Homo sapiens: one gene and its partners. The protein of the gene in region 1 purifies or fractionates together with the protein of each later gene. This does not show direct contact. Each region holds a gene or a part of one and is shown in the gene's direction. Other genes may lie near its edges. The genes, in order: NSF, SEC31A, SCFD1 and VTI1B.

The links.
Region 2: the proteins of NSF (region 1) and SEC31A fractionate together in Homo sapiens (co-fractionation; 2 studies listed by BioGRID). This does not show direct contact.
Region 3: the proteins of NSF (region 1) and SCFD1 purify together in Homo sapiens (affinity purification with mass spectrometry; 3 studies listed by BioGRID and IntAct, with this or other methods). This does not show direct contact.
Region 4: the proteins of NSF (region 1) and VTI1B purify together in Homo sapiens (affinity purification with mass spectrometry; 2 studies listed by BioGRID and IntAct, with this or other methods). This does not show direct contact.

The regions. Positions count from the first base shown.
Region 1 is NC_000017.11:46,754,658-46,757,991, forward strand, and holds the end of NSF (vesicle-fusing ATPase), read left to right. Parts: intron 1-656; coding exon 657-712; exon of another isoform or gene 713-716; intron 717-1,144; coding exon 1,145-1,166; 3' UTR 1,167-2,807; downstream 2,808-3,334.
Region 2 is NC_000004.12:82,874,118-82,881,155, reverse strand, and holds part of SEC31A (protein transport protein Sec31A), read left to right. Parts: intron 1-233; coding exon 234-357; intron 358-2,227; coding exon 2,228-2,426; intron 2,427-5,333; coding exon 5,334-5,429; intron 5,430-6,404; coding exon 6,405-6,545; intron 6,546-7,038. UniProt on the Homo sapiens protein: Component of the coat protein complex II (COPII) which promotes the formation of transport vesicles from the endoplasmic reticulum (ER).
Region 3 is NC_000014.9:30,617,702-30,625,334, forward strand, and holds the start of SCFD1 (sec1 family domain-containing protein 1), read left to right. Parts: upstream 1-4,617; 5' UTR 4,618-4,637; coding exon 4,638-4,698; exon of another isoform or gene 4,699-4,761; intron 4,762-7,633. UniProt on the Homo sapiens protein: Plays a role in SNARE-pin assembly and Golgi-to-ER retrograde transport via its interaction with COG4. Involved in vesicular transport between the endoplasmic reticulum and the Golgi.
Region 4 is NC_000014.9:67,664,617-67,671,654, reverse strand, and holds part of VTI1B (vesicle transport through interaction with t-SNAREs homolog 1B), read left to right. Parts: intron 1-7,038. UniProt on the Homo sapiens protein: V-SNARE that mediates vesicle transport pathways through interactions with t-SNAREs on the target membrane. These interactions are proposed to mediate aspects of the specificity of vesicle trafficking and to promote fusion of the lipid bilayers.

The DNA.
Region 1 (3,334 bases):
AACGACCTGAACGAAGCACCTGAAACAAAGTTGCGCCATCTTTTCTTAGACTCATGACACATTCGCAGTCACAGGAGACCCAGATTCATCTGGAGATGATTTCAGGAATCAGCAGTACTCTTCATTTTTTTAGTTTTAGCACAACTTTGTTACTACAAAGAAGAAACTATATGACGGATACTGAGGCTAAGAAAAGCTACATGGTTGGTTATGTAGAGTTAATAAGCTATTTTTTAGTTGTTGAATTAACCTCAACTTGGTATCTTCTACTTTGCTGTGACTTTAGTAGCCTTTTACACCTTCAACAGGTGAATTGGTTGTCATTTGAACTCTGATGAATGGCCCTGTCCAGTCTCACAGCGATGCCTCACAGGCATCAGCACAGGGCACGCCTGGCCCAAGTGCCTATGATGGCCAGCGGGCTTGGGTCTTTTGGAACCCAGTGTACATAGTTCTGGAAAACCCCATTCACTTCCTCCAAATGATGTGATCTGCTTTGTTTTGTGTGAGAATGCTGGTCAAGGAGCAGGTAACACATTCAGTGACCTAGCAGAGCATTGATGAAGTGTGAAACCGAACACTGCCTTCTCATGAAGCAAGTGCAGAGTTGTTAGAAGGTACCATTAACCCATCTTCATTTCTTCTGATGTATTTAGATGGATCCTGAATACCGTGTGAGAAAATTCTTGGCCCTCTTAAGAGAAGAAGGAGCGTAAGTACATACAACATTTAATGACCATCAACCAAACTTACCACCCTGTTAAATCCCTGTGCCTATTCTAAGAGTTGCTTTCCTAGATAAGTTTGTTTCCATTTATTTGAATTCTTCGCTGTGTTGTAGGTCCGAGAGACCAAGCAAGGAAGTTGGTTGTACTGTTGGTTTGCTCTCCCTGTCCTGCTTCGCAAAACTTCCTTGTCACAATGCAGGAAAAACTTAATGGTACATATTTATTGGAACCTGCTTTTACATGCATGGAGCTGTGACCATTTTCTTTTGTGAAGTGCTCATCTAATAGCAAATGCATAGTGGGAAATGTAGGATAACCATTAAGAAGCTTTTAGTGATTTTTTTTTTTTTTTTTTTGATGAATAGTTTTTTACGGACCCTCATCTGTTTTTTTGTGTTTTGGTATTTCTTTTGCAGTAGCCCCCTTGATTTTGATTGAAAATGAACTATTTGAAACACACAGTGACCAAGGGAAGTGACCAAGGTGAAGATGGCCTAGGATCTTCACTGTCTTACTCAAGATACTGGACTAAGTGGAACGTTCTCTACCTTCAACATGTGCTCGCTCTGCATGATTAGTGCAATAAAACTCCCTTCCTTATGCATACTGAGATAGCTTAGTGTCTCGTGGAAGGTGTCAATTTGGTTTAGAATGCTGCGCTTACCTTCCCATGCAGGCTAAAGTGATTCCTTCTTGCTCAGTCCCTCTGGGTGGGAACCATCCAGTACTTGTGGACACTACACGTTTCAACCTCTCTACTAGCACCATCACCCTTGAAAACTCTCAGTCAGTGTCATGAATGTTGCATGACAACAGTTGGCCGATTAGAAGGCAGACTTTCTACATGCAAATCTGGCTTAGTAAATCGAGGTGTGGGCCAGAGATCCTCTGACAGCTGTCCTGAGCTAACACTAAAAGTCACTGGGTATTTGGTTAAAGGTCTCCCACAAGACTGGTATTCTCTTTGCCTGAAGAAACAAGGCATTGAATCTCTAAAATGCTGTTCTCAATCATTGTCAGAGATGTTTTCAAGTTGCAGTCAGAAGATCTTTCTTAATAGAAAGTCAGATGACTACCGTGTTGGTTGTGACTTCCCCTTAAGTATAACTAATTTGCTCTGTGGTAAGAGATATGCTCATTATTACCACTTAGAAGATGTTGTTAAAAACATGTGAAAGATAGGTATGGAAAAAGCATACACCCCCAAACAGAAAGGAGTTATTAAAGTAATTTACAAACCTCTCAGCACTAATTAGTGTCCAACTCCAAGTGGGTCAATTCCTTAGTATAATATTAAGGCTTACTAGTATCACTGCTTTTTCCTTAGCTTAATGACTTACTTAGAATTTATCCTTTATTTTAAATGATCTGTACTATCTAGTGTCTAAAACACTATTCTCCAGAAAAATCAATCATTTTCTAGCCCTCTCCCTCAGTCCTTTATTGTCCATTCCAATACATTGAACACATTTCCTTTACCCTCCACACACTTCTTCCAAAAGGAAGCACCCGTTGAGTCCTTTTGAGGGTGATTTGTCTTACAACTGACTGACTTAGCAGGAATTTAATTAGGTCATATTTGGTGATGAGACTTATGGAGTGTGCCTCTCTCTCCCAACTGCTGCTTAAAATGCAAGGACAAGCAATTAGAAGCCATCCTAAGGTGCTTACCTCACACGCCACCCATGAGGCTTGTGGCCACAGTGGCACTTGGGTGTGGCTCCTCTGTTATTTGTCCTCATGTGAGAAAGCAGATCATCTCCAAATCTTGCCATTTGTATACTTTTGGTGGAGACTTGGATGTCATATCTTCTTTGTTTTGGGTTTTCTTCCCTAGCTTATTTTGTGGCTTTTAAAGAAGTGGATTGTATTGTGAGATCCTGTGATTCCTGGTGGCCAGTATCCTGGATTCCTCTAAGATCTTGCCTCTTTCCTCCTCATGAAAGCAGCACACATTGTGTTAACTTATGTCTCTTGTTAAATGAGCTTAATGTCTTTGTGTTTTGTCCAAAACTGTATTGAAAAAATATTGTTTAATGCAAATGAAGGAATGCAATAAAGAGTAAATATACTTGAAAATGTTCTGTAGACCAGTGTTTCATATAGAACGACATGAACAGCTGATAGGAATGGAGGAAGAAGGAGGGGGCTCAGGAAAGAAACCTCTCCGTGTTTTGTTACAAGTAGCATAACATGAGGGATGATTTTTATTTTAAAAATCTCTTATTTAGAAAGTATAGTTATTTAAAAACATCATTAGAGTATCAGAAAAAGTTAATATACAACCATCTTTATGCTTTATACTTATTTTATCTTACTAAAAAAAAAAAATGCCTGGCACGGTGGCTCATGCCTGTAATCCGAGAGGGAGGCTGAGGTGGGTGGATCACTTGAGGTCAGTAGTTCAAAACCAGCCTGGCCAACATGGTGAAACCCTGTCTCTACTAAAAATGCAAAAAACAGCCGGGTGTGGTGGCACATGCCTATAATCCCAGCTACTCAGGAGGCTGAGGCAGGAGAATTGCTTGAACCTGGGAGGCAGAGGTTGCAGTGAGCCAGGATCACGCCACTTGCACTCAGCCTGGGCAACAGAGCAATACTTTGTC
Region 2 (7,038 bases), on another chromosome or scaffold:
TTTTAAATATATACAGGCTTAAAAAATTATTTACACTACCCACTCTTATAAACATCCTCTCCTAGCCCTGTGCCAGAATCTCATTGCTATAGTAATTTAAGCATCTGCTCAATGGCATATGTGCAGCATTCATGAGCAAGAGAATGGAAAACATGCTTTTAACTTCTGTTTTGTATGGTTTCTCTGATCTTTTATTTTTGTGTGTATAGTTACCATAAATATATTTTCTATAGGAACATCTGCTCAGCAATTGGATGCAACATTTAGTACGAATGCTTCCCTTGAGATATTTGAATTAGACCTCTCTGATCCATCCTTGGATATGAAATCTTGTGCCACATTCTCCTCTTCTCACAGGTATGAGGTTCAGCTTTAAATTCATGTGATTATTTAATTATATATTGTTCTTGATTCCTAATTTGTCTATAATTATGCCATTATTAGAAACTACAAGGAATACCATCAAGAACATGAAATATTTTGTGAAAAAGCATGTGAGTGAATTTTTATGGAAGTAAAAGTAGTGTTTATGTGTTCTATTGACTTTTTTTTTTCTTTTTTTTTTTTGAGACAGAATCTTACTTCATAGCTCAGGCTGGAGTGCAGTGGCACGATCTCGGCTCACTGCAACCTCCACCTTCCAGGCTCAAGCAATTCTTGTGCCTCAGCCTCCCGAGTAGCTGGGATTACAGGTGCACACCACCTTGCCCAGCTAATTTTGTGTCTTTAGTAGCGACAGGGTTTTGCCATGTTGGCCAGGCTGGTTTTGAACTCTTGACCTCAAGCAATCCACCCACCTTAGCCTCCCAAAGTGCTGAGATTATAGGCATGAGGAATCACGCTTGGCCAGTATGTTCTGTTGGCTTTTTTATTGCTGTTACATGTAAGGTAGGAAGGAGAGGCTGTAGTTTCTAGCATTTTTTTCTGTTTTTTTGGTGTGTGTGTGGTTTTTTTTGTTTTTGTTTTTTTTTTGAGATGGAGTTTCACTCTTGTTGCCCAGGCTGGAGTGCAATGGCGCAATCTCGGCTCACCACAACCTCTGCCTCCTAGGTTCTAGCAATTCTCCTGCCTCAGCCTCCCGAGTAGCTGGGATTACAGGCATGTGCCACCATGCCTGGCTAATTTTGTATAGAGTTCTTTTTTCTATCTCCTTTATTGTGCCTGTTTACAAAAAGGTAGATGTGACTAGAAAAGGAGTAGTCATCGTAAGTATTAATAGTGATTATCTCTGAATGGTAGCTTATTTTTATTTTCTTCTGTTACGATATTTAGAAATATATCTCACAGTTTTGTTGACACGATTTCTAATACACTAGGTAACTAGGTATTTGGATCATACTTTCAAGTACTTATGCCCTATTGTAATGCAGAGAAAGGAGGTCTTCATTTCAGTAATAAAATAAGCTTTATTGCCTCAATATATTAGCAGGGTTTAAAGAGATTGCTCTTTAGCTGACAGAATATAGCTCAAATCATGCAGTTTCATGGGACCGCTCATATTCTTCAGAGCTGTCACAGTGGGATGGGAACCCCAGATACCTTTTGTCTAGTAGTTTTTCTGCTTACTACCATCTGTATCATCGTATACCTTTCTGCCTTCATATTTCATCTCCATTCTGGACCATATATTTTATTCTCTAATAGTAGGGGTACTTGTTATAATCTTGATGTCATTTTTCTACCATTAGAATACATTCTTTTTCTTAGAAAATTTCACATGACTCCTTTAACACCTTTACTATTTAACAGACCACTTGTTAGTGACCCCCCCTTTTTTTTTTTTTCAGACAAAGGTCAAAGCATGAGACCCTTCTATAGTCAAATAAAGAGTGTTTTTACCTTTCGAGGGAAGTGATTGATTAGCTCTATTTTACAATGAACCAGAGGCAATTTAAGAAGATTAAGTAACTTAGGGTCTCACAGTTTCTAAATGGTAAAATCATTCTTAAGCTCATATTTTTTGACACACAACTCAAGTATATTTTGTTACACTACCTTACAAGAGTTTTTACTCTTTAAGGATTACAAAATCACATATGCAAATATGAGTATAAATAAAAAATGAAATACTATTACACCAAAGTCATACATAGTTACCAGGAGTGGTGGGAAAGTAATATATTTGGATTGTTTATGAAAACATTAAAAATTAAGTGTATAATTTCAATTTTTTGTCTACATTTATTTGACTTTAAGAATGAATGATTTTATTCATTTTCTCCTGTAGGTACCACAAGTTGATTTGGGGGCCTTATAAAATGGATTCCAAAGGAGATGTCTCTGGAGTTCTGATTGCAGGTGGTGAAAATGGAAATATTATTCTCTATGATCCTTCTAAAATTATAGCTGGAGACAAGGAAGTTGTGATTGCCCAGAATGACAAGCATACTGGCCCAGTGAGAGCCTTGGATGTGAACATTTTCCAGGTTAAGACTTTAACATTTCATAATTCTTAGACTATGTGCTGCTCATTTGAAATCAGTATATGAATCTACTATGCCTCAGTTTTGGAATTGAAAGTTAAAAAACTGTGGCTATACAGGTTGACGAGTGTTTGTTTAAAGAATGGTGGGTTCAGAGTTGAGATCAGGGTTAAAAATACTACCTCCATGAAAAGGATCCGGCTGATAGGTTTTTGTTTTTGTTTTTGTTTTTGTTTTTTTGAGACGGAGTCTCGCTCTGTCACCAGGCTGGAGTGCAGTGGCATGATCTTGGCTCACTGCAACCTCTGCCTCCTGGGTTCAAGTGATTCTCCTGCCTCAGCCTCCCGAGTAGCTGGGATTACAGGCGCCTGCCACCACGCCCAGCTAATTTTTGTACTTTTAGTAGAGATGGGGTTTCACCATGTTGGCCAGAATGGTCTCGATCTCTTGACCTTGTGATCCGCCCGCCTCGGCCTCCCAAAGTGCTGGGATTACAGACGTGAGCCACTGTGCCCAGCTGGCTAATAGGTTTAAGTCTGAAGATGTCACGCCATTTGATTAGACATTTTATAAACATTAAGATCCCTATAGGTTGGAAACCTTGCCTTTTAAAAGTTCATGCTAGGTCAGCATTAGGCTGGTGCTGTGATGTCCAGGTTAATTCACTGTTTTATTAATTGAGAAATTTTATGTTTATGACAGAGATTAATACTCTATGAAATAATTAGAAATTAAATGTAATGGCTGGGCATGTGGCTCACACCTGTGTAATCCCAGCACTTTGAGAGGCCGAGGCAGACAGATCATGAGGTCAGGAGTTCGAGACCAGCCTGGCCAACGTGGTGAAACCCCGTCTCTACTAAAAATACAAAAATTAGCCGGGCATGGTGGCAGGCACCTGTAATCCCAGCTATTCGGGAGTCTGAGGCAGGAGAATCGCTTGAACCCGGGAGGCGGAGATCGCAGTGAGTTGAGATCGTGCCATTGCACTCCAGCCTGGGCAACGAGCAAAACTCAAAAAAAGAAAAAAGAAATGTAATGCAGATTTAACAAATAGTCAATTAAGATTCTTTGTACTGTTGCCTTCATAAACATTTCTGGTTGTTAATTATATAAATGCACAGCTTAATAACGATCTTAGCCTGAACAGGATGGTGAAACCCTGTCATTACAAAAAATGCAAACAATTAGCAGAACATGGTGGCACACGCCTGTAGTCTCAGCTACACGGGAGGCTGAGGTAGGTTGATGGCTTTAGCCTGGGAGGTCTACGCTGCAGTGAGCTATGATCACACCACTGCACTGCAACCTGGGTGACACATAGAGACCCTGTCTGGAAAAAAAAAAAAGACCTTGAGTTAATAGGATACTAGATTATAACAACCAAAAATGAGTATTAAGAAAATTTTAAATAGTTCCTTTTCTTATATTATAAATAGATACTTAGGGTATAGCAATACAGAAACCCAACTTGTTTATTTCTTTTTTGTTGTTGTTTTTTGTTTTTTGAAACAGCGTCTTGCTCCCTCTGCCAGGCTGGACTGCAGTGGCTCATGACTCACTGCAGTCTTGACCTCCTGGGCTCAAGCAAGTCTTCTGTCTCAGCCACCTGAGTAGCTGGGACTACAGGCATGAGCCACAACACCTGGCTAATTTTTGTAGAGACAGGGTTTTTTCGTGTTGGTCAAGCTGGTCCCAAACTCCTGGGCTCAAGTGGTCTGTCTGCCTCAGCCTCCCAAAGTGCTGTGACTACAGGCATGAGCCACTGTGCCCAGCCTTCGTTTCTATAGTTTGTGGTATCTGCTCTTTAGCTAACTCCTTTGTTAATTGTATTGAACAGCTGATGATTTTTAATAAAGTATTTTGTGTTATAGGTAGCTACTACCATAGAATGTCTCCCTTTTTTTAGTTATATGCCAACTGATAGAGAATAATTTGTAAGAGTAAATAGTAGTGGATGAAGGTCAGTATATGAAGCCCATTATCTTCCTGTACTTTATATTACAATTTCAGGTTCTTTTTGACCCTTAAGGTATGTACCAGAGAAAACCTAGAAATATTGCCACCTGGAATAAGATTGAGTGTATATGAACTAGAAATATGTGAAGAGTTATGACAAGAGATTTTACTAGTGCTGTATTGATTCAGCTCTGGAAGCTGGCTTTGAGGTATCCTGAGAAAGATGCCACAGTTTTAGGATTCAGCTTTTTCTGAAAGCAATAATTGATGACCTTTTTAATCTTATAATTAAATCTCCTTCCAGAGATGCAAAGATACAAACAGTAATCCTCACATGGTTGCATGACTGATTAAGAATTTATCCAGCCAGGTTTGGTGGCTCACGCCTGTAATCCCAGCACTTTGGGAGGCCGAGGCAGGTGGATCACCTGAGGTCAGGAGTTTGAGACCAGCCTGACCAACATGGAGAAACCCCGTCTCTACTAAAAATACAGAATTAGCCGGGAGTGGTGGTGCATGCCTGTAATCCTAGCTACTCGGGAGGCTGAGGCAGGAGAATCACTTGGACCCGGGAGGCGGAAGTTGTGGTGAGCTGAGATTGCACCATTGCACTCCAGCCTGGGCAACAAGAGCAAAACTCCATCTCAAAAAAAAAAAAAAAAAAAAGAATTTATCCATATAATTTTTAAAATAATATCTTGCATTAAAATTAATTTGTTCTCAGTAGACATCTTTTGTCTTTGTTAAGTAGAATTTTATGTTTTTCTAGAAAACTTTAAATTTTGAAAGAATTATGCATAATTTAGAAATTCATGCATATGTTTTTCACTTTTCAAATTAAATAGAAAAATTGTGTATGCTACATCTAATATCTTTCTAGCTCTGAACTGAGTTATTCTGAATTTTCTTAATTATTCATAAGTGCTATTTAGTTATGGTTTCTTCTTGCAGACTAATCTGGTAGCTTCTGGTGCTAATGAATCTGAAATCTACATATGGGATCTAAATAATTTTGCAACCCCAATGACACCAGGAGCCAAAACACAGGTATTTTTATATTGATTTTGATCATTGTAATCAAAAAAGCCAAAAGTAGTTCTCCTAAACCTACTTATTTCACTTTTAAGGCTTCTCACACAAAACATATATGTTTAAAATCATTGTTTAGATATTACTGATTTTTCTTCAGTAATTAATAAATATGTTTCTTCAAAGTATCAGTGAGTCCATCAAGAGTAAATATTTATTTAGTACCTACCACCTGGTAGACACTGGTCATTGTACTAGGCATACAGTAGTAAACAAAATGAACAAAAATCCTTAATAATTGTCTTAGATATAGTATAATTATTTTTGTTCTTTGTGTGATAGTTGCTCTGTGTTTTGGCAACAACCAACCTTCTTAAAACACACTTAGACAAGACCATGGAAGACAAGGTTTAAAATAAATACCTCAAGCCCTTTGCTTGTGTATTTCTATTAAGTTTGGTAACAACAGTCTTCTCCTGTTCTTCCCTGAGTTTCTTTATGTTGTATAGGCTATCCAACTTGAGTAGCCATTGTAACTGGCTCTAACATTTTGGCAATCTGAGAGGTAGCATAATGACAGCATATGCACTACCATTTATAAAGGTATTTTGCTAATGGTCTAGGCTGTAATTTTGCCCTGCCTAGTTTTCTGTCATAGTCACCAACATCTACTTTGTGGTCCATAATCTACCTTGCAGCAGTTGCAAAGTAAAGAAACAGTACTTGGTTTATAGCAGAAATTCAATAAAATTCTTGTTGAATGAGATATTATGAAACAAGATAATACACTTGAAGTGGTATGTACCTGCATTTTAAGTCATATAATTTTATGTGTTGAGAATGTAGAGATGTAGGACTATAAAGCAAATTTGTGGCATAAATGGATCAGATTTTTAAGTAATACACTTTTCAAAATGAAGGATCCAATTTTACAGTTAAATTTGATTATAATAGAGAAACAAGCAGTTTTTATTAACTGTTTCTTCCTTGTAGCCGCCAGAAGATATCAGCTGCATTGCATGGAACAGACAAGTTCAGCATATTTTAGCATCAGCCAGTCCCAGTGGCCGGGCCACTGTATGGGATCTTAGAAAAAATGAGCCAATCATCAAAGTCAGTGACCATAGTAACAGAGTAAGTATGTGATTGACTTGTGATGAACATGTTGTATTTCTGCTGTAGGTATTCCTATATTGTTTGTCAGAGTTGACAACAAATCAAATTTCTGTGAAGTCAAATCCTGTTTTTTTATTAATCAGTCATGTTAGAAGGAATGTTTTGTTTTTTTTCCTCTAAGGGAAAATCATAAAATTCCCAATAAATATGTTGGATATTATTAATGATGAAGAGAGATTGGTTAATCAAGGAACTTATTCCATGATATACTGGTGGTTTTGCTTTGCTAGCTGTTTTAAAACATTGCAGCAACTTTTTTTTTTTTTTTCTTGAGACGGAGTCTCGCTTTGTCGCCCAGGCTGGAGTACAGTGGCGTGATCTCGGCTCACTGCAACCTCTGCCTCCTGGGTTCAAGCACTTCTCCTGCCCCAGCCTTCCGAGTAGCTGAGATTACAGGCATGCACCATCAAGCCCGGCTAATTTTTGTATTTTTGGTAGAGATGGGGTTTCA
Region 3 (7,633 bases), on another chromosome or scaffold:
ATAAACTCTTTACTTCTGTTTCCTTTATTTTTTAACTTTAATAATGCTACTAAAAGACAATACCTAAAAGTAACTGTACTAACAAAGTGCTAACAATGTGAAAATATATAGTCCCATAGTCATGTCCCCATATTTATACTCCCACAGAAGAAAAAATTGGAAAACAAAGTCTGATGTCCTTAATCTATTAACATATTTAAATGATATAATGGTTCAGTTTTCCATGAAAGTAAATCATTATGGGAAGTAAAATGTTTTAACCATATTTTTCTTAATACACAAAGCAGGTGTCAGCTGTTGTATTCTCACCCTTCTTAAGAAAAATCATTACATTATTGATATTTTTTAAGTAACAGAATAGATTTGAAAGAGATAATATATCTCTTAATACCAAAGGAAAACTAAAACATAATTCTAGTGTACTTTTCTTTGTTCCCTCATGTCTTTTTCAATCTGTACACTAACATACCTAGCAAATTTGTTTTACTTTAACTTGAAATATTTAAGAACATTAAACAAGACATTTCTTTGGCTTTGGTTGAATTTTTTTGTCTCACCAATAGTAATTGAAAGATCAATTATCAAAGAGTTTGAATAGCTAATATAAACCCCAAAGTCACCATACAGTTTTTATTCCAAATATGTTGATAAAAAGATATTTGTTTCTTTATCCACCTTATTTTTATTACAGCTAAAAACCAATACAAACCAATAAAACCTAGTTAAAGCTATTTTCTGGTTTTTAGTTGCAATTAATTTCCCCTAGGGTAGAAATTAAAGCTGATTAAGTCACACACACATACTTTGTTGGGGTGGGGGTGGCAGGTGGAGAGGCAGTGTACTTGGGTTAGCTACAATTAAAAACAGTATTTCAATTCCTCATTTGACTTATTTTATATATAGACAGGGCCTTAGTGATAAGATGGTGTAAATAATTTAGGATATTCATGTTTTAAAGTGAAGCATAAATATTTATTTTGCAAAATGTTTTCTAGTTTGAAGGATGTTCCATTATTACCATTTTTAGATTAATCTGTATGGTCAAGGAATATCAGAGAAACCTGTAGGTTATTTATTTTCTGCAGTGTCATTTTGTCAAATGGTTGGTATTATAATTGTTCTTTTCTTATTAATTTTATAACCAGTGCATAATTCTTACATTAGATTTTAAAAAAGAATTATGCTATAAATCTTTATAAATGTGTACATATATTTCTTAAATATTGCAATTGCCTAAATGTTGTATATTTTAAGGCTGTTTTCTCTTGCTCTTAATGTTGAGGAAAACTATAAATTGATCTATAATGCATCTACTGTTAATGGTTTTGGTTAGTTTGATATTCATTGTTTTTAAACACTTTCCAATATGGAAACTTTAACACCTTTTATACAATTCTCTACTATTCAAGATATTCTTTAAAATATCTCACCAGAAACTTACAATTTTATACTTTGTAATTTTTAGTTTCTGTAATTTGAGGAAGTGACTTTTTTTGTTTGGGTTAAGTAAAAAGCCTTTGATTGATTACCAGCATGAGAATTCACCTTGGTTTCTATTTTATGCATTTGTAAATTTTTCCCCTAATTATATGGAAGCTATTGGAACTTTTGTATTCAGTGCTAAATACTAAGTCAAGGGGAGTATATTAGGTAAGTTTTTTCAGTGACTGTGCCTTTAGCATTCAGTCATTATAAGAAAATGATCAGAACAAAATCATTACATTATAAACATGTAATTCTTTTATATAGTGATTATCATGTACTGCATTGTTACTTTAAAATAAGCTATTAAACTAGTTTTTATGGTTCAAGTAATGCAATACAAAGTTTCATGCTTCAAGTAATGCAATACAAAACATAACCCATTTAATGATGAATTACTTGAATGTATATTATCTGTGGTTTAGGAAAATTTGGATTGTCTTGAAGAGACTCAGTTTTCAAGTTCTGATTTTGACCATTATCTCTTCTAATTCATAAACATATCCCAGTACCTACACTATGCCAGGTATTATGCTAGGTGATCGTTTATATGTCAGCCTATTTCCCCCCCTTTTAAAGACTGCCAGATTAACCAAAAAGCGTGACATTTATAACAATGTTTTATAAATAAATAAATGTGTTTATGCCACTAAAGGTAAACTGCCTATTTAAACTAAGTAATTTTTTGGGATTTAATAAGATTAAGATTCTGACGAAACTGAAAGATACAAGATTCCTTTACTCTCCACATTTGAGAGATCCTATAAGCAAGCAGTTAGTGTCTGACACCCAGGAACCTATAGAAATGAGGGAATCTGTGTTAAAACTATGTATCCTCTAATGTAAAATAGCTTACCAGAATAAATTATTTAAGCCAAAAATCTGGACTCAGATAAATGGCTATAGTAAATTAGGTTAATGAACAATCTGTAGCCATAGATTATTTTCAGTCTTTCTGATTCTAATAAAACAAATACCTTATTCAGTCTCAGCCTTACAAGGGCTATTTGTCTATGGTTGCTGTTCTTCTGTGAGGTGTATTTTTCTATAAATTTATTGCCCACATTCTGTGCACTTGGTCAGGAGTTTTTATCATTTCATATATATGCAGTGTACATCAATTTTAAAATTGTCTTCGTGGTTTTAACATGACTCATAGTCTTGGGAGAGAATCTGTGATGGAACTGAAGTGGCTCAATGATGGATTTGCATTTGAAAGTGGAAGTACCCAAATGAGCAAAATTGGGCTCTCAGACATTTTATATTTCATAGAGACTGTAGAATGCAGTAGAACTTTCCCATAGGGCAGAAATAATTTGTTTAGTTGGAACACACCTAGATCATTGAAGATTCCTTCAAAATATTAGTAATAGTACTGAAGACACACATGTATTCCAGTTAATTTCTTAATGAATGTGCCAATTAGCTATAAAAATGAGATTACATAATTTTTTTTTCTTTTTTGAGACAGAATCTCACTCAGTCACCCAGGCTGGAGTGCAGTGGCGCGATCTCTGCTCACTGCATCCTCCGCCTCCCAGGTTCAAGCAGTTCTTCCTGCCTCAGCCTCCCCAGTAGCTGGGATTAAAGGCGCCCACCACCACACCCGGCTAATTTTGTATTTTTAGTAGAGACCGGGTTTCACCATGTTGGCCAGGCTGGTCTCGAACTACTGACGTCAGGTGATCTGCCCACCTCTACCTCCCAAAGTGCTGGGATTACAGGCGTGAGCCACCGCACCCGGCAGAGATTATGTAATAAGATAACCTGTTTTAAATGTCACAAAAATAAATTTTTATTAATGAAAAAAGCCAGTGTTTCACACTATAAAACAATATATAATCGTTAGGCTAACCATTTCATTTATATAATTGTGAAAGTTAAGCTTTTGAGGTACAGAGTGATTTCATTTCAGAATTTGGTGCAACTTCATAATGAAGCGTCATCAATGAACTCGGGAAATGAGGTGTCATTGTGTATCCATTTTGGTCATACAGTAAAATCTATGGATTAAGTTAGAAATCATCTATCCCATATATTTTGCGGTCACGTGGCTTCAAGTGTACATTAAACCGCCAGCACAAGACCAGCCTGGCCAACATGGTGAATCCCCGTCTCTACAAAAAAAAAAAAAAAAAATTTAGCCGGGCGTGGTGACCCCTGCCTATAGTCCCAACTAGTGGGCAGTCTGAGGTGGAAGGATAGTTTGGGAGGATCGCTTGAGTCCGGGAGGTCGAGACTACAGTGAGCCGAGATTCTGCCACTGCACTCCAGCCTGAGCGACAGACAGTGAGATACTATCTCAAAAACAAAACAACAACAAAAACCAGCACATCAGCCTGGCCTGATGGTGTGCCCCTGTAGTCCCTAGCTACTTGGGAGACTGAAGCAGGAGGATCGTTTGACCGTCAGAATTTGAGGCTGCAGTGATCCCTGATTGCGCGCTCCAGCCTAGGCAACACACCCCACTACTGCTTGACTTCCTTCCCACGGCAAGGTGATTTTGCAATTACTACAAGGAAAGAGGAGAAATGCTAATTTCTCATTTTGTACCTCCCTGGATCCCGTGTCCATGCCGGCAGAACGCCACCATAAAGCTACACCTTTTTTTTTAAAGAGATGCGACTGAGAAATATGCCAGATCAGAGTAATGCTCCAATGCTTTCCGTTTCTCTGGAGAAAGGAGCAAAGGGAAGACTCCTGCTGCACTGAGAAACGAGAGCTAACGTTAAAATGTTGCCTGTGTTTCAGGAGCTTCATTTACTTCAGTCCTGTGGTCCTTATACTCCTAGAGCATTATCACCCTTTAAGTGCTCTGTAAGTCACCAAACCAACAGTTCAGTAATTAGGTTCTTAGCACTACACGCTCCTACCCTAACAGCTCAATTTAATGTTGCTACCATTTGAGAGAGTGTGGCTTGATTCGGTAGGATAAAAACTCTTAGTATTCGCCTAACATTACGGGCCACTGAATTAACCTGCACCGGGTCTCCCAGTTCTACCGAGAGTGGAGGTCTTCCTGGAGGAGGTGGGGTCCGGAACTCAGGCACACCCTTTGGCCCCGCCCTTCCGGGCTTTGCTTCCGGGGCGGTAAGGGCAGCCACGTCATCCCCCCGCTCCGCTCCCCAGCCGGGCAGTGGCTCGTGGGAGCCAAGATGGCGGCGGCGGCGGCAGCGACAGCAGCAGCAGCAGCCAGTATTCGGGAAAGGCAGACAGGTACTGACTTATTCTCTTCTCCTTGAAGCTTCGTGACTGCCCCGACGACATCCTTCTCCTCTGGTGCGTGCAGCTCAGAGACCGATCTCCAGGAGTTTAATCCAGTCCCTAGAACATCAAGAGCCCCTCCCCTTTGAGTTTTTGGGGAGAAGTTGCCATTAGCTTGAGGACTCGGTTCCTCCTGTGGTGCAGGAGAAGGAGCTTCAGCGGTGGGCGGATTGCTACGGCCCTGCTCTTGTCTCCTTCCTAGTGGGCATCAGAAGGCCATCACAACAAGATCTAGCAGCTGATAGCTTCTTATCTATGTTGCCACCTATGAGGTCTCCGAGTTTCTGTGCGTGGTTCAGTTCTCCTGGTTTTGATTTTTAAGAGAACTCCCATTTTCTGACACTCAGAGAATTTAGGTATTTTCACAGCGGCTTGCTTTGCGCCACTTCTCTACTTCGGACCAGTCTTTTGGGGGTACCTGCAGAAAAATGCCTGGTGATAAACATTTTCTCCTTCAGCTTGCTGGAAGGCATTGAAGAATGGCAAAACAAATGAATTAATAGCTTTCTCATTTTAATTGTTTGACACATTGTTTTAAAATAATATTTTATCTTCAATAGAGCATGTTTATATAGCTTCTATTTATGCAGAGAAATGTAAAAAGGCACATATTCTTCTCTTGAGTTTTGGGTTTTTTTCCGTCTTAGAAATTAGTTTTGCCTTACTTGAAAACTTCTCATGACAACTTGGTTTATACCTGTTAGCTACAAACTAAAGGTTTATACTTGTTAACTAGTTGTCTTAAAAGTTTTCAAGCAATTTATTCTGAGGAGCTAATAGAAATAAGGCATCAAGAATGTGCATACTTGGAATTCTGTTTCCTGAAATTATGCTCTGTTGGATATAAATATGAATAGGAAAATAAATTTATAATTCATATGACCTACAGAAGGGATTTGGGCTGTACTTGATTCCTTCCTTTGGCATTTAAAGAAAAAGTGATAGACTTCAATTTAGTAATGACACACAAAAGATACTGAGTTGCGTTCTGCTTTTCCCAGTAAATAATTTAGTATAACCTATCAGGTGAAGTCAGGCATAACTAAATATAGGGAAGTTCAAATAAGATTTGGGGCATACCTGCCATTCGTTGTATATGTTTAAACAAATGGAAGCTCCATTTGTTTTAATACTGTGTTTCTGATGACTATACTACATATTAAAATAACGTGTCAGTAAAACTGTACCAATACAAGAGAGCTTTTTGAAAAATAAATTTGCGTGGCCGTAAACTTGTATGCAGAAATTTTGTAGATCATTAAAATCTAATCGTTTGTATTTCTGCAGAAATAAACATAGTAAGATTTTACAGAATTACTAGGTAGTGCTAGATCTATTTTTTATCAAATTTTTACTGTCATTGAATTCTGCCTTATTTTCAGAGGAAGGTAAATCCTTGTATATATATTATAATGCAGAATTAGCTATTTCCCTCATGCCTATGGAGAATGTTTTGGGAGATAACTCACAGTCCTTAAATATTCTAGATACTAGAATATTTGGGTGGATGAGATAATAGTTGGCATTTATTGAGCATTTACTATTGTTAGGCATTGCATTAGGTGATTATGTATTATCTCCATTTTACAGGTGAGGAAAGTAAGATAGAGGTAAACTAACGTGCCTGTTTCTTGCTTTGCCTGCCTGAAAAATCTTTATTGGTCTCCTGAAAAATCTTTATTGATCTTTTGAAGGTCATCCCACAAGCCATCTCCTTTCTTCCTGGTTCACTGTCCCCTCTATCCATACCTTCAGTTCAATAGGTAGAATCAGTTGCCTCCTGCTCCGTGTTACTGTTGTTCTTCATTGAATGCGTCTTCGTTACAGGTTCTTGCACATCTTCCCAGCTTCTCAACATTGCAGGGTCCCATTAGTGTTCTCATCTAGCGCCTTAGCTTTCAGTATTATCTGTATGTTGATGATTCCCAGGTTTATATCCCTAGTCTGGCCGTCCCATCTGAACTCAGTCTACTCCATATCAGTTAATGGCAGTTCCGTCCTTTTAGTTGTTCAGGTCAAAAACCTTGAAGTTTTCTTGACTTGTCTCTTTCATGTCTCATGTAAGATCTTTCAGTAAATCTTGTCAGTTCTACTCTGAAAATACATCCAGGATCTGACTGTTGTCATTGCTATTCCGAGGTCCTGTCCACCATGAATTTCTGCAGTAACCTATTTGGTCTCTTTGCTTTTACAATCCTGTTCTCCTTCATTATTTTTCACACAGTACCCAAACTGATCATGCCATATGTTTGCTCAAAATCTTCCAGCATCTTCCCATTTCAACCATGATAAAAGCCAAAGTGATCTTACAGTGTTCTACAAGGCTTTATACGATCTGGTTTCCATGTAGCTTTTGGACCTCACTCCCTATTTCTCTTCCCTCTCCTTGAACCCACCAGGAATGCTCCCACCTTCGAGCCTTTGTATTTGTTTCTTCTTTGTGGAGTACTGTTTCAGAGATAATCTCCATGGCTCACTCCCTCACTTCCTTTAGGTCTTTACTCAAATGTTACCTTCTCAGGAGGCTTTCCCCAATTATTCTGTTTAAAATTACACCTCAACTCCATCTTCCCCTTTCCCAATCTTACCTTTCTTCAAAGCACTTACCATGATCTACATACCATATGTTTTACTTTTTTTTTATTTTATTTTTTTTATCCCCCAATTAGAATGAAAGCTACTTGAGGACAGGCGATTTTATTCACTGTTTTGTTCAGTTGCTAGATCCCCAATAACTACAGTGCCTGTGGTGAGCACTCATCAAACGTGTTGAATGAATGAATAGTGTGTATGTAAGTAATGACATTAACCAAGTCTAGGAATATGGATACAGGTTGAGTATCCCTTATCCAAAATGCTTGCGACCAGGAGTGTTTTTGATTTTGGA
Region 4 (7,038 bases), on another chromosome or scaffold:
TAGCAACATAAAGCTAAGATAGTTACATTCACCTTTGTTGTCTACCCAGCCTTTTTCTCCATCCTGCAAAGAGGACAATCAGAAATATGTGAATTTCTTTTCTTTTTTCTTTCTTTTTTTTGTTTTTTTGAGATAGAGTCTTGCTCTGTCGCCCAGGCTGGAGTGCAGTGGTACAATCTCAGCTCACTGCAACCTCCACCTCCTGGGTTCAAGTGATTCTCATGCCTCAGCCTTCCGAGTAGCTGGGATTACAGGCGCATGCTACCACACCTAGCCAATTTTTGTATTTTTAGTAGACACGGGGTTTCACCATGTTGGCCAGGCTGGTCTCAAACTCCTGACCTCAAGTGATCTGCCCGCCACGGCCTCCCAAAGTGCTAGGATTACAGGTGTGAGCCACTGCGCCCAACCACAAAATACTCTAAGTTGCTGGTAACAGACATAGTTGTTTAATGGATAAGTAAAGAAAATATATACATATCCCTAGAATTATAATAAGTCCAACAACTTTACCTCTTATTCACTACCTCATTCACACTGCTCAATAAATGTTTGTTGAATAAATTGAATTTATCTAAGCAAACACATGGTGCCTCATCTCTGAATCCTCTTTTTCTAGTTCAGAGACCACATCATAAAGTTTTCAGAGCTTTAATGCCCATCATGAATTATTAGGCACAGCATAATGTACATAATACAGTCCTTGCATGTAGCTTATGCTCTGTAATTGAATTCAGTCATTTTTCAATAAACACTGAGAATTATTATGTATCAGCCACTGTCTAGGCTCTGAGGACTTCCAGAGTTCTTACCTTAAAAAGAAACAAACGGCCGGGCACGGTGGCTCATGCTGGTAGTCCCATCACTTTGGGAGGCCTAGGCGGGCGGATCACAAGGTCACGGATGGAGACCATCCTGGTCAACATGGTGAAACCCCATCTCTACTCAAAATACAAAAATTAGCTGGGTGTGGTGGCATGTGCCTGTAGTCCCAGCTACTCAGGAGGCTGAGGCAGGAGAATCGATTAAACCCAGGGGGCAGAGATTGCAGGCGACAGAGCGAGACTCTATCTCAGAAAAAAAAAAAGGTAACAAACCTTACAACCAAGTGTGTGATTAATCCTAAAATAAAGTTCTCTGAGACCATAAAAAGGGCTGGACTTGAGCATGGGGAAGAGGGGGAAGCTTCAAAAAACTTCAAACTGAATATAAGGGATTGAATGGGAGTTTGCTAGATGGGAAATGCGAAGAGGCAACACAGGAGTAAAACATGGAATACTCCCAACTCTGGAGCTTAGAATGTATGTGGGAAAGTAGTAGTAGAGGGGCAGGTGAAACAGCCAGATTGTGAGGGGATCTCAGTGTCACATTGAGACATTTGGACTTGATATGGAAAGTCAGTAAAGGACGTAAAGCAGTTGATTGATGTGGATTTTCTTTTAGAAGGAGGGCATTAATGGCTAGACAGGACAAGAGAGAGCACAAGAATCTGGGTACAGGGGACTGTGTTAAGAGCCTTTTGGGCAGTCACCTTGCTAACGGGAATTTGTTTGACACAGGTTCTCACTCCTGTCTCCCGTCATCCAGGCTGGAGTGCAGTGGCACCATCACTGCTCACTGCAGCCTTGGCTTCCCGGGCTCAGGTGATCCTCCCACCTCAGCCTCCCGAGTAGCTGGGACCACAGGTGCATGGCACCAGGCCTGGCTAATTTTTTGTATTTTTAGTAAGGGTCTCCCATGTTATCCAGGCTGTTCTCGAATTCCTGGGCTTAAGTGATCCACCCACCTCAGCCTCTTAAAGTGCTGGGGTTACAGGGGTGAGCTACAGTTCCCGGCCCAAGAGTTGGTTTTGAGGCAGAAATTAACCAGCCTCAATGGATATGAGGAGTGAGGGAGAAAGGTTCCAGGGTGTCTGCATTTTTTCACTTGGTCAACTGGGTGAATGATGAACTTAAGTAAGAAACATAAGAGGAGAAGCAGAGTTTGGGTTGTGGATGAGAATATCAAAGGTACCTGTAGAACAGAGATCATGACATAATATAGCCTTACAAAATGTTTCTTCTTCTGCCATTAAAAATAACATACGGGGGCCAGGTGTGGTGGCTCGTGCCTGTAATCCCAACATTTTGGGAGGCTGAGGCAGGAGGATTGCATGAGGCCAAGAGTTGGAGACCAGCCTTGGCAACATGGTGAGACCTATCTCTACAAAAAAAAAAAAGCTGAGTAGTGTGGTGCTGCTCACTTGTAATCCCAGCTGCTCAGGAGGCTGAGGCAGGAGGATCACTTGAGTCTAGCAGTTTGAAGTTTTAGTGAGCTGTCATCACATCATTGCACTCCAACCTGGGTGACAGAGCAAGACTCCGTCTCAAAAAAAAAAAAAAAAATTATGAAGAAGTATGTGAATTGAGAGGCCATATAGTATAATATTTAACAGCAAGAATTCAAGAGCCAGATTGCCTGAGTTTAAATTCACCTTCTAGTAGCAGTGTGACCTTGGACAGGTTACTTTAACCCAATTAGTTTTTCCTGCCAAATGGGGATAAATCATAGTATCTACTTCACAGGGTTTTTGTGAGGAGTAAATGAGTTAATATATGTAAAGTCCTTAGAATACTGCCTGATAATAGAGCTACTAGCCATTTTATTTAAATGAAAATTAAGAATACCAGCCCTGTATACAACTATTCTTACCTTTTTTTTTCCAGAGTACTTATTTTCTGACATATTAGACACTTTCCACATTTATGATATTTACAGTATATTGTTTGTCTTCCTTTCACTAGGACAGTGGTTTCATTGTGGTCCATGAACCAGCTGCATCAGCATCATTTGGGAACTTGTTAGAAATGCAAATTCTCAGGCCCCACCCCAGACCTATTGAATCAGAAAGTTTTAACAAGCAGTGTGTTTTCACAGCCCTCCAGGGGGTTTCTGATGAAGGCTAAGTGTGAAAGCCACTGAGCTAGAATATAAGCTCAATGTTGTCTTTTTTTCACTGTGTTTCCTAAGTACCAGAACAGTGCCTAGCACAGACTAGGTGCTTCATAGATACCTATTGGATGATGGAATGTGTGAATTGTTGGAAAGAAAATATTGATATATGATTGTGATTTATTTCTATTCTGTTGTCCACATTTTCATTACTTTAAAAATGGGTATATTCCACCTATTAAAACAACAAAAACTGTATTTCTCCAAAGTACAGTCTCCATTCACTTTCTGCCTTTGAATGATACTAGAGACAATGTGTCCTGTTTTAGGAAGTTTTTGTGTAACTGTCCATTACCACTTACAATAATTATTAATCCATTTAATATTTCATTAAATACCTATGGCCATAATTTCTACTCTTGGTTTTACAACCTCTGAAGAGGTCTCTCCAATTACCTCAGAGTACTATAATGTGCTATAATTTCTTAATCTAATCAATGTTAAATGCCTGTGGTCATGATTTCTAGTTTTGGTTTTGTCATACCTGAAGACATCTCTCCATATGTCTTAACGTGTATCATAAAAATATTGAAAGTTTTCCATTTTAAATCATTTAGATCAGTATGTATAACACAAGACCCTATTATTTTCAGAGCCAGAAAAAATAGTCACTATGGAGTACTATAATCAGCTGGCCGATAAACACCAATTACTTACAGACTGTAGAATTTTAACTATTCTAACTCCTCATTTTTTTTGTTTGTTTGTTTTTTGTTTTTTGAGATGGAGTGTTGCTCTTTCACCCAGGCTGGAGTGCAGTGGCGCGATCTCGGCTCACTGCAACTTCTGCCTTCCGGGTTCACGCCATTCTTCTGCCTCAGCCTCCCGAGTAGCTGGGACTACAGGCGCCCACCACCACGCCGGGCTAAGTTTTTGTATTTTTAGTAGAGACAGGGTTTCACTGTGTCACCCAGGATGGTCTCGATCTCCTGACCTCGTGATCCGCCCGCCTCGGCCTCCCAAAGTGCAGGGATTACAGGCGTGAGCCACCGCGCCTGGCCTCTAACTCCTCATATTTTCTACTGAATTTGGTTTTTGCTCTTAGGTTCTTCCTAAGTATTTACTTTCAGAAACAATGGTGGTTTCTATTTATTGAGCCCTTATTATATTTGGCACTTGCTAAGTGAATGTTATGTGTATTATTTCTTTTAACCCTTTCAAACAACCCTTACAAGGTCAGTAGTCTTATAGTCCCTATTTGCAGATGAGGAAACAGGTTGGTTGAGAGGGATCTCTGTTGCTTTTAACTCTTGTATGGTGTGGGATCTAGTCAGCTGTCACGGTGTACAAATAAAGGGTGTAAGTCCTCCATTTTGCCACAGTGAGGCACCAAAAGCAAAGTAACCACATATTTATGAGCTGGTGAAACTGAAGTTGTTTCCACAACTTTAAAGGGCCAAGATTAGGCATTCTTGGGCTGGAAATTCAAATCCCCATAAGGAAGAGAGGCTGCCCACCTTGGTCAAACATTAAGGTAGGCTTTCTGTAGTGCTGTTTTTCAGAGCTGTCTGTTTCCATTTTACTCCATGTCAGCATCCACCCAGTTTCCCAAAGGAGACAGAGTTGGTCCCAGAGAGTCCCTCACATGTGACTGATTTGGGCAGGCTTGTGGGGTGGGGGATAGTGGTATTTGAAGTGGTTCATTCTTGTTCATGGTGCCCATTCTCCCCAGGATGCCACCTTGCTGTTTGTAGTTGATTGTAGCATCAATTCTAACTCCCTAAAAAGAGGAAGAGGTTTTTTGTTTTTTCAACAGATTTTACCAGTTGTTAAAGGCTATACTCTGGGAGCACAAAAATGCCCCTCAGTTGTATACAGTATACAGTTGTTTAATATACAGAAAAGCCTTGGACTGGGAGTCAGCACACTTGCATTCCAGAACTAGTGCTGCCATACATTTGCTGTTCCAATGACTGTGGGGCAGGCACTCAGTTTCTCCAGGGTCTAGTGTCCTCAGTGGTAAAGGCAGGAAGTTAGACTAGATGATCGCTGAGGTACATCCTAGCTCTAGCATTCATTGGTTTCATAATTCTGAGCCTAAAGAATTTTTAAAAAGCTGCTATTGATCCCTCTCAGTTGGGTAGAGATCAGTCTCTTGAATTATCTGCCTCCCTGGCTTTATCATCACAAGAAATGATTTCAAAGGTTTCTGTTTTGTTTTGTTTTAAATCTTAGAAGTCCAGAAAGGATCTCATAAATGTAGTGAAGTTCTGTAAAAGTATGTTGTTATAGAGCACTTATAAGAGGAAATGTGTTTTATGAAATCAGGTAGGAAATGGAATATTCTAGCACACAGAAGTTAGTGAAAGGAGAGAGGTTCTGTGGTCTTCTTCTCCCCCTTTCATTTATGTAGTTACATTCCTGGAATCATTCTAGAATTTGCCTCTTGAGAATGCGGATTTTCATACCCATTAACAAAGGAAGAATAAAGGAGGAGAATTTATGACTAAACACAGTTGTAGAAAAGTCTAGGAAAGGAAGGAGCTAGGAAGGGAATGTACATATGTGTACAGTACTGCTTCTTACTGTCTGGCTTGGATCAGGAGTGAGCATGCCTGAGTTTGGAGATGTGCTGACTCAGAGCAGTGATGATGCTCAGCACTTTTGGGACAGCTTATTACAAAATAATACAATACTGCTCCATGGAAGTAGCCGTTTTTGACTGTCGGTATTATTTCAGTACTGGTAGCTAAGAACACATCCCCCTCAGGAACAGTAATAGCTGCCTTGGTGCTCATTTCAGTTACATCATAGATGGTCAAGAGTCATACCATTTGCCATGGTGAACCTTCCTCTACCTTTTTTTAAACAACAAACAGCCATGGGTTTTGTGAGTGGTATGGAGAAAATTGTCTGAAGTATCTTGTGTATATTAAGGGGGTGGCACACAACAATGAATGAGACATAGTAAAGGGTGTGTTGTCATTTGCCCTTTCAGGCAGTAGCCACATCTAAGGAGGTTTATAGTTCTAGGATCTATGGCACAGTAAAAATGACAAAATAAATTTCCATGTTTCAGAGGAACTTGGTCTCAAGTTGAGATTATAGAATATACGCATCCAAAATGATTTATGGTCACTTAAAAAGTGGGATACAAGGACAGGTGTGGTGGCTCACACCTGTAGTCCCAACACTTTGGTAGGCTGAGGTCGAGGATTGCCTGAGCCCAGGAGTCAAGACCAGCTTAGGCAACATAGTGAGGCCCCATCTCTACCAAAAAAAAAATTAGCTGTGTGTGGTAACCTGCACCTGTAGTCTCAGTTACTTGGGAGGATGAGGCAGGAGAATTGCTTGAGCAGGTGGGAGGATTGCTTCAGCCTGGGAGGTCGAGGCTGCAGTGAGCCGTAATCATGCCACTTCACTCCAGCCTGAGTGAGACTGTCTCAAAAAAAAAAAAAAAAAAAGATATAACTGACATTAGATGCTGTTGTGATTAACAAAATGTAAATCCATATAAAGCATTACAGTGACATTACATCTTATGTAGGATTGGGTTCAAAAGTCAGGGCTTGGCCGGGTGCACTAGCTCACACCTGTTATCCCAGCACTTTGGGAGGCCGAGATGGGTGGACCACACAAGGCCAGCCTGGCCAACATGGTTAAACCCCCTCTCTACCAAAAAATAGAAAAATTATCTGGTTGTGGTGGTGCACTCCTGTAACCCCACCACTCAGGAGGCTGAGGCATGAGAATCACTTGAACCCAGGAGTTGGAGTTTGCAGTGAGCTGAGATGACGCCACGGCACTCCAGCCTGGGCAACAGAGTGAGACACAGTCTCAAAAAAAGCCAGGTCTTAAGATGAAAATCAGAGTAGACAAATCATCTAAGAAAATCTCAGGACAGCAACTGAATACCCACATGCCATTTCTCCATAAGCCCGGCTCATCTGTTCTCTTTTGCAGCGGAAAGGCTGAGGTGGATGGATCACTTGAGGTCAGGAGTTTGAGACCAGACTGGCCAACATGGCAAAACCCTGTCTTTATTAAAAATGTAAAAAAATTAGCCGGGCATGGTGGTGGGTGCCTGTAACCCCAGCTGCTCGGGAG